2 separate regions of the Homo sapiens genome follow, and region 2 is linked to region 1. The links come from fine-mapping of genetic effects on gene expression. Tissue or cell type: whole blood. Region 1 holds a variant in brackets; the other region holds the start of a gene. All regions are shown on one strand. Distances are from middle to middle.

Evidence for each region. PIP is the estimated chance that this variant, and not a neighbour inherited with it, causes the effect.
Region 2: it holds the start of FBXO42, and the variant in region 1 is fine-mapped to the expression of FBXO42 in whole blood (TOPMed, PIP 0.99).

The regions. Positions count from the first base shown.
Region 1 is chr1:16,291,172-16,295,518 of GRCh38, forward strand. It overlaps FBXO42 (F-box protein 42), which reads right to left. Exons shown (of 10, transcript NM_018994.3): 4 at 3,612-3,746. Among named protein-coding and RNA genes, the nearest start is that of CPLANE2, 56 kb to the left of the region's middle. The variant T/C (reference allele first, on the strand shown) is at 2,494.
Region 2 is chr1:16,350,191-16,354,335 of GRCh38, forward strand. It overlaps FBXO42 (F-box protein 42), which reads right to left and starts at 2,290. Exons shown (of 10, transcript NM_018994.3): 1 at 2,065-2,290. RefSeq lists an enhancer at 1,555-2,329.

The sequences.
Region 1 (4,347 bases):
CTCCAATCTACCTACCTCGATGCACTAAAATGAGTGAGTCAGGTACACCAAGACTTATAAACAACTATGTTTTATTCAGAAGGACTAATTGACATTTCAGTTAGGAAGTGATTTTGATTAGGACTCATGATAGCATACAGAAACATTGTCTTAGGGCATCTTACATGGGGTTTCTGCCTAAATGAGAATCTCATGGGACTTTTTTTTTTTTAATTTATTATTTTATTTTGAGACAGTCTCACTCCGCCACCCAGGCTGGGGTGCTGTGGCGCAATCTTGGCTCACTGCAACCTCTGCCTCCTGGGCTCAAGTGATTCTCATGCTTCAACCTCCTGAGTAGCTGAGGTTACAGGCACATGCCACCATGCCCTGCTAATTTTTTGTCTTTTTAGTAGAGATGGGGTTTCGCTATGTTGGCCAGGCTCGTCTGGAACTCCTGGCCTCAAGTGATCCTCTCACCTCAGCCTCTCGAAGTGCCAGGATTGTAAGCGAGAGCCACCAAGCCCAGGCTATTTTTTGAGACAGGGTCTCCCTCTTTCACTCAGGCTAGAGTGCAGTGGAGCAATCATCACTCACTGTAGCCTTGAACTCCTGGGCTCAAGCAATCCTCCCACCTCAACCTCTCAAGTAGCTAGGACTACAGGCACATGCCATCATGCCCGGCTCATTTTTAATTGTTTTGTAGAGACAGGGTCTCACTATGTTACCCAGGCTGGTCTCAAATTCCTGGCCTCAAGAGATCCTCCTGTCTCAGCCTCCTAAAGTGCTGGGATTAGAGGAGTGAGCCACTGTGCCCAGCCAGGACTCTTTATTAAACAATTGTTTTTTATAAGTAGACATTTCAAAAAGCTCAGGTTTTCCTCCTTCTAAAACTAGCCTCTAATTGCAGATTAGGATGAGGGAGTAACTAGATTCTTTGAGACATTTTGTTAGAAAATTACTTTAAACATTCAGGAGTTTGTATGTTTTGTCAAAGGGAATATTCCAAATGCTCTATTTTTAAAAATTCATATTCCATAGAGAATGTAAATGATTGAAGCAGTTATTTCTCCAATATTTCTACTTTGGGAATTTCAAAGCATAACCTTTTCTTTGGCTTCCCTCCCTCCCTTCCTGCCTTCCTCTTTTCTTCCCTTCCTCTCTTTCTCTTTCTTTGTTTCTTTTTTTGAGACACAGTCTCACTCTCGCCTAGGCGTCTGGGCTTATATCTGTGGGCTCAAGCAATCCTCCTGTCTCACCCTCCCAAGTATCTGGGACTATGGAGGCATGCCACCATGCCTGGCTAATTTTTTGTTTTTATTTTTTGTAGAGATGGGGGTCTCACCATGTTGCCCAGGTGAGTCTCAAACTCCTGGCCTCAAGGGATCCTTCTGCCTTGGCCTCCTAAAGTGCTGGGGTTATAGGCGTGAGCCACTTCGCCTAGCCACAAAGCAGTCTTTAAACTTGATGGTTTAAAAAAAAAAAGTCTTACTCCATATTACAGGGAGAAATAAGCACAGTAGTTGGCAGAGGCTATGAAGGTCCCCAAACCAGAGCTCCATTTTAACAAGAAAGAGCACCACCCATGCTAAATTATCAAAGGCATAAAGCTTGTTTACAAAATAAAGACAGTAATAGTATTTTGTGACTGAAACTATCAAAGCTCCTCTGAAATAAGACCTGTACAAGATCCCAAGCATGGTGGCAATAGGATGCTTAAGCTGAGAAGATCTTCTATATTTTAGAATCCATAACTCAGCTGAGACTGCAGTAAGCTGTGACTGTGCTACTGTACTCCAGCCTGGGTGACAAAGCAAGATCTTGTCTCAAAAAACAATACAAAACAAAACAGAAGCTGTAACTCCAAATATTAATCAATTTGCACTAAGTGCAATATGGTATAAAGGGCTAGAAAAGGTTATTCTCCAAAGTACAAAATTCTCAGGGCCCTGAAATAGTTCTAGCTATCAAACTTTTTATATGATTACCATTTCTTTATTATTCCAATAGTTTTTGTGGAGACTTGCTCTGTTGCCCAGGATGGAGTGCAACCTCCACCTCCTGGGTTCATGAGATTCTCCTGCCTCAGCCTCCCAAGTAGGTGGGATTACAGGTACCCATCACCATGCCCAGCTAATTTTTGTATTTTTAGGAGAGACAGGGTTTCATCATGTTGGCCAGGCTGGTCTCGAACTCCTGACCTCAGGTGATCCGCCCGCCTTGGCCTCCCAAAGTGCTGGGATTACAGGCGTGAGCCAGTGGGCCTGGCTTGTAGGTTTGTTTTTGTTTTTGTTTTTTATGAATGGCACAAACGGCCTTTATTGGTTGTGACAGGAAGTGGAAGAGAAGGGGATATAATAGCTCCTCCTCCTGGTGTGGCCATCTGCAGACTGGACCACCACCCTCCTACCCTCCAAATGCCAATAATTTTAATAAAGAACTTCATCTACACAAAGCCCAGCTCCACCCATGGTATCCACTCAGTAGGCTCCTCCTATATTTGCCTAATGTAGG[T/C]GGAAAGAACAGGAACTTAAGTTTTAGGGAAGCAAAATGCAGCTTCTTCTCATAAACAGGTTTAAGTCCCTGGCCTAGACATTCACAGTAGCGGTTATAGAAAGGGAAACATAAACTAGCCTTTTTAGCCCATTTAAAAATAGTCATTTAGTACTACTCCACATTTCTCCCAGAGAAGTGCAATAACTTATTTATAGTTACATGGAGAATTGGTGACTATGCCAGGAAATGAAACTCATGTCCCCTCACTCTTAGTCCAGTGCCCTTTCTAATATACAATGATGCCTCCTATCTGGTAATCAAAGTAGTAAGGCAAGGCCTAAATAAATAAGGAACTTGCCCAATGGAAACCCAAATGTCCTTAGTCCTAAGACTGAGTCCTAATACTAAAAAGCCAAATGAATGTTTTGGGAAAAGCTTGCCAAAAAATCTAGCAGAATACTTTATACTCAGTGGACACTATTTCTCCATCACACCAACCCCTCCAATCTATGCCTCCTCAAATTGCCCTGCCTCATGAGTGCAAAAACCATTGTTTTTATTTTTTCCCCCAGGAGAGGTTAGGTCAAAAATAAGAAAATAATCTAGTTTCTTTCTGCCAGATTTCTGGCATAGTGGGACTGGGTAGGAATGTACCTACTGTAGAATCTTCCCACACCCCTGGGTTGTTAAGAGTAACTAGCAGAGGCACGTCCCATACACTCCCCAAATATCTGAGCTGGCAACAACAACAGATATTCAGAGACCTTAGCCCTAGGACAATAGCTTCTGTCAGTCAACTACAGTTCTCACGACTCTGTGTTTCTGTTCTTACTTCAACCTCCTACCAAATGATGTATCACACCTGTATGAGTATACTTGAGAAAACCATGCAAATGAATTCACACAGCAGTACAGCAATTTTGGCAGGGCACCATTACTAATGATAAAGTATAATTTAACAAAAAACAAAGACTTACACAAGCATATTACTATTATCATTTACATGGCACATTAAACTTAAGGACCTGAGTCCCAGTAACCCATCCTTGAGACCAACACCAAAAATGATCAGGTAGAGTTTCCATGCCAAGGGAGTCACCTGGTAAGGAGGCAAAGATCAGCATTTCATCTCTTACCTGAAGCCAAAGGTCGGATCCACTCTTTGCTGTTTAGGTCAAGTCTCCAGAGGTCATTGAAAGCAGCATTGCAGCTGCTCTGGGTACAGCCTCCAAACACATACATAGACTGATTAGCATCATAATAGCATGCACCTAGAAAGAAAATACACAAATAACTGCTGTGAAAATTCTGAGGCCCTTCCAACATTTTAACCATAACATATATTTTTCAAAGCTTATTTCACACATTCAGCAATTTTGTTACCAAGTACCAAATTTCTATTACCAGCCTCTTGTCTCCAAGTGGATCAATATATTACCCTTTAAAACAAGGTCCAGAGGAAAGCTATGAAAATTTTATTTCTGAGCACACTAAGCAAGTTGACAATGATGTAACAGTGTAAGTCCAGCAAGAACACATAATAATTCACATTAAAGGTGCTCAAATGAGGGAAATTTCAGCACAGCTACATAATTGATCTAAATCTGCATCATTATCCTCTAGAGCTAAGCAAAGGTATGCCAACACATGTACTCTGTCCTCCCATTCCTTTCCTCCAATTCTCCTATTGTTTTTGTTTTCAAATTAAACCTGAAGCACAAATCAATAAATGAATCTTTTTTTTTTCTTTCTTTCTTTTTTTGAGATGGAGTCTCCCTCTGTCAGCCAGGCTGGAGTGCAGTGGCATGATCTCGGCTCACTGCAACATCTGCCTCCCAGGTGCAAGCGATTCTCCTGCCTCAGCCTCCCAAG
Region 2 (4,145 bases), 59 kb after region 1:
AAATGATGTCATGGATGTCATGAAGTTGCATCAATACCTGATGATGATTTAGCATAACAGTGCAACATATTATGCCAAGAAGCATAATGATGAGCCACCAGGATGTTTTACTGCATTAATTTCATGACTCTTTATTAGCAAATTGATATGCAAAGTAGCTCTCCAATTTTCTACCACAGAGAAGCTGCTGGTTCAGATTTACATCTTTAGCAAAGACACTAAGAAAATCGACAAATTTCTATGGAAAAGTCTTTGATTTAAAAATAGAAAAGGAGGCTGGGCACGGTGGCTCAAGCCTGGGGTGGGGCAGGGTATCGCTTGAGACCAGGAGTTTGAGATCAGCCTGGGCAACATCGGTGAAACCCCGTCTCTACTAAAATTACAAAAAAAAAAAAAAAAAAAAAAAAATTAGCGGGCGTGGTGGCGCACACCTGTAATCCCAGCTACTCAGGAAGCTGAGGCAGGAGAATCGCTTAAACCCAGGGGATGGAGATTGCAGAGAGCCGAGACTGTGCTACTGCACTCCAGCCTGGATGACAGAGTGAGAAACTGCAAAAAAAAAAAAAAAAAGAAAGAAAGAAAGAAAGAAAGAAAGAAAGAAAGAAAATGGTCAAATAATAACCTAAACAGTTGTCATTTTAACAATGAAAAGCTTTTTAAGATACGCAACATGCCTATGGATCAATGTAGATTGAATCATCTATTTATACTGGCTTGTCAAAAGCAAACAGTTACTGGGTATAAAATGACAACATACAATAGAAAAGACACCCAATCAGATTACACACGTGAATACACTCAAAGTTAGCAATTTAACACAGCATCACTAATGGCCATAAGATATACAGACTTAATTCTAAATATTCAATTCTAAATGATGGTACTTCCCCCAAATTTTCCTTGCCTCTTTAAATCCATGATGTCATCATTCTTAAGCAGAAGTAAAGCCAATTTGTTACAAAAGATATTTTGGTGTGTCCAAGCAAAAGCAATCGCCTCAACAATTCTGCATAGCACAAGTTCAGTGAAGCCATCATTCCTCAAGAAAGAGACCACAAGGCTTCAAACCGACTTCCCTACATGACAGAAACACAATCGAAGTCTCCCAATTAGCATTTAAACAGCAATAAAAGTTGTTCTCAAAAAGGAACAACATAGTTTCAACGTCGGGGCCAGCAACTGCCAGCAAGTAAAACTGGTAATGTGTCAGAATCTTCATCTAGATCGATCAGAATCCCACCACAGAAAAATCCAGACTCTGGCAATTAAGAAATGAGGCTTTTATTTTCCTAACAGAAATCGGGAGATTTAACAGACAAAGCAATTGGTTATTCTGAATCTTAACAAACCGAAGGTTTCAAACGAACTCAGCGCTGAAGTTACTCTGCAGCGACCATCAAGATCTCACAATCGTTTTCTCTTCGCTTACAAATTCGTTCCCACCCTCCACCGTTCCCTTTGCACACACAATTCTCGCCAAGAGAAGCCTTCCACAGTCACAGCATGGATTGCTGTCTCAAGCAAGGAGATCCGCAGTTCCCATTTCTCTAAGGGAACACTCAACAAGCTAGGGGATAGGAAAGGCCTTTTGTGTTTTATTTAACGTAAACCAATTCCAAAATTATCCCTTTGCAGCTGCAGGTTCAGAGATGCTAGCCCCCAGCCGCAGCCCCAATTTTGATGGGCACCCGACCCCCGACTCCTCTCTCGCAAAGGAGTGAAATGTTCGGAGGAGCGATGAAAGATTACCTGACACCCTAAAGCCATCCTTGCCCGGGCCACACACCCCTTCACTGCCCGGGTGAGGGGACGAGAACCACCCTGCTGAGGAGAGGGGGTGGGTTCGCTCCCAACCCAAGGGCTGGCTGGAAAGGAGCTGTCCTCCTCCTCGCCTCACTCGAGGACGGCGATAGCAAGTCACCCTGCCCAACCAGGACCGACCCCCGCGTGGGATACGGGGCCTGCGTCAGACCCCGGGCGCCCGCTGCCCCTTGCCAGTCCCGGGCATAAAGGGCAGAAGGCGCCGGCTCCCCTCTGCGGCCCGGGGAGGAGGAGAGGCCTCACCTGGCCCAGCCCGCTCCACGCTCTCGGGTTCGCTCCGCTGGCGACGGTAATGAGGGAGCCAGGGACAGGGCCAGAGCAGAGGCGCTCTGCCTCAGGCCGCGACAGCCGTGCTCGGGGCTCCTCACAGCTGGCGGGACCCCGAGCCGCCCGGAGCCGCCATCTTCCTCCACTCAAACGCCGCCGCCGCCGCAGCTGCTGCTGCTCAGGCCGGGAGAAGACAGCGCAGAGCGCGCATGCGCCGGGGCGGGCGCGGCGGACGCGCGCGCACTCACGTCAGCGCGGCGGGATGGCGAGGGGCGGCCAGGGGGCGGCGCAGTGTTGAGAAAGGCCGTGGTCACAGGCCGAGGTTCTGTGGAGGGTGGAATGCGCTCGGGGGAGCTAGGCCTCCGCACCCGCCTTCGCCGCGTCTCTAGCGTCGACCTGATAGCCGCACCCACCCTCCGCTGCACTGTCTGGGGCAACTGGGTGGTTTTCCCGGTGGTTTGAGACTAACATTTAGCCAGGAATTAACTCACTTCTACCCCGAGGGCCCGATGAGCAGAGAGGGCTGTGGCGGATGTGAGTGCTCTTGGATATCGCCAAGGGGAGGGAAACTGTGCTTGAGGTGTGCAGGAGAAGTCTTCCCTTAACCGTAGCCTCGTAGCAACCACTGTGAGTTCTTACTAGCTCCACTTTTCAGATGAGGAAACTGAGGCACAGAAAACGATCACTTATTTGCCCGGAGTCACACACCTATCAGTGGAGGTGGGGCGGCGCGGGAAAGAGGATTTAAACTCAGGCTTGTCTGGTTCCCAAGCTCCTTTACTTCCTACTAGCTAGGTTATAGGATCCAGCAAAGTCCCCCTTCTCAAGGGAGCAACCTGGTGTGTAGGTGAGAACCTTCATGAGCCCAGCCCTACAGCATGTGGTCTAAGGAAATGCCAGATACAGAGTCAAAGGCTTCAGTCTAAACTCTGTAAGCCAAAAAAACAAAACAAAACAAAACAAAAAACTAAGCCCCCACCCCCCCCCCAACACCAAACCATCTGAACGGACTTCCTCCTAGGCCAGGGCAGTCTAAAATGTAACCAACCTGAGAGACTGGTTCAGGCCATGACGGGAAGCAGGACATGAGACATGCCTCATTACATCCTTCAGCATTGACATCAACACAACAGACCTTAAGACTGGTAAGAAACATTTACAATCTGTTCTCTCTGGAGCCCACCTGCCACTTGGAGGCTTCACGTGCGTGATAAAACTTTGGTGTCCACAATCCCTTATCATAACCCAGACATTCATTTCTATTGATAATAACTTTTTTTTTTTTGAGACAGGGTCTAACTCTGTTGCCCAGGCTGGAGTCCAGTGATGAGTTCTTGGTTCGCTGCAACCTCTGTCTTTCAGGCTCAAGCTATCCTCCTACCTTAGCCTCCTGAGTAACTGGGACTACAGGCGGGCACCACCATGCCTGGCTAATTTTTCCATTTTTTTTGTAGACACAGGGTTTCGCCATGTTGTCCACTCTCATCTCAAACTCCTGAGCTCAAGTAATCCACTTGCCTCGGCCTCCCAAAATGCTTGGATTACAGGCGTGTGCCACCGCACCAGGCCTATTGATAATAACTATTTCAACTCATTGCCAATCAGAAAATGTTTAAATCTGCCTATAATGTGGAAGCCCCCACTTCAAGTTTCCGGTCTTTCTGCACCGAACCAATGTAGTTTTTATTTATTTATTTACTTATTTTTATTTATTTGTTTATTTTTTTGAGACTGAGTCTTGCTCTGTCGCCCAGACTAGAGTGCAGTGGCACCATCTCCGCTCACTGCAACTTCCGCCTCCTGGGTTCAACCGATTCTCCTGCCTCAGCCTCCCGAGTAGCTGGGATTACAGGCGCCCGCCACCGTGCCCAGCTAATTTTTGTATTTTCAGTAGAAAATACAAAATTCAGTAGAAAATACGGGGTTTCACCATCTTGGACAGGCTGGTCTCAAACTCCTGAACTCGTGATCCACTCACCTCGGCCTTCCAAAGTTCTGGGATTACAGGTGTGAGCCACGGCGCCTGGCCTTTTTATGTATTTATTGAGACAGGGTCT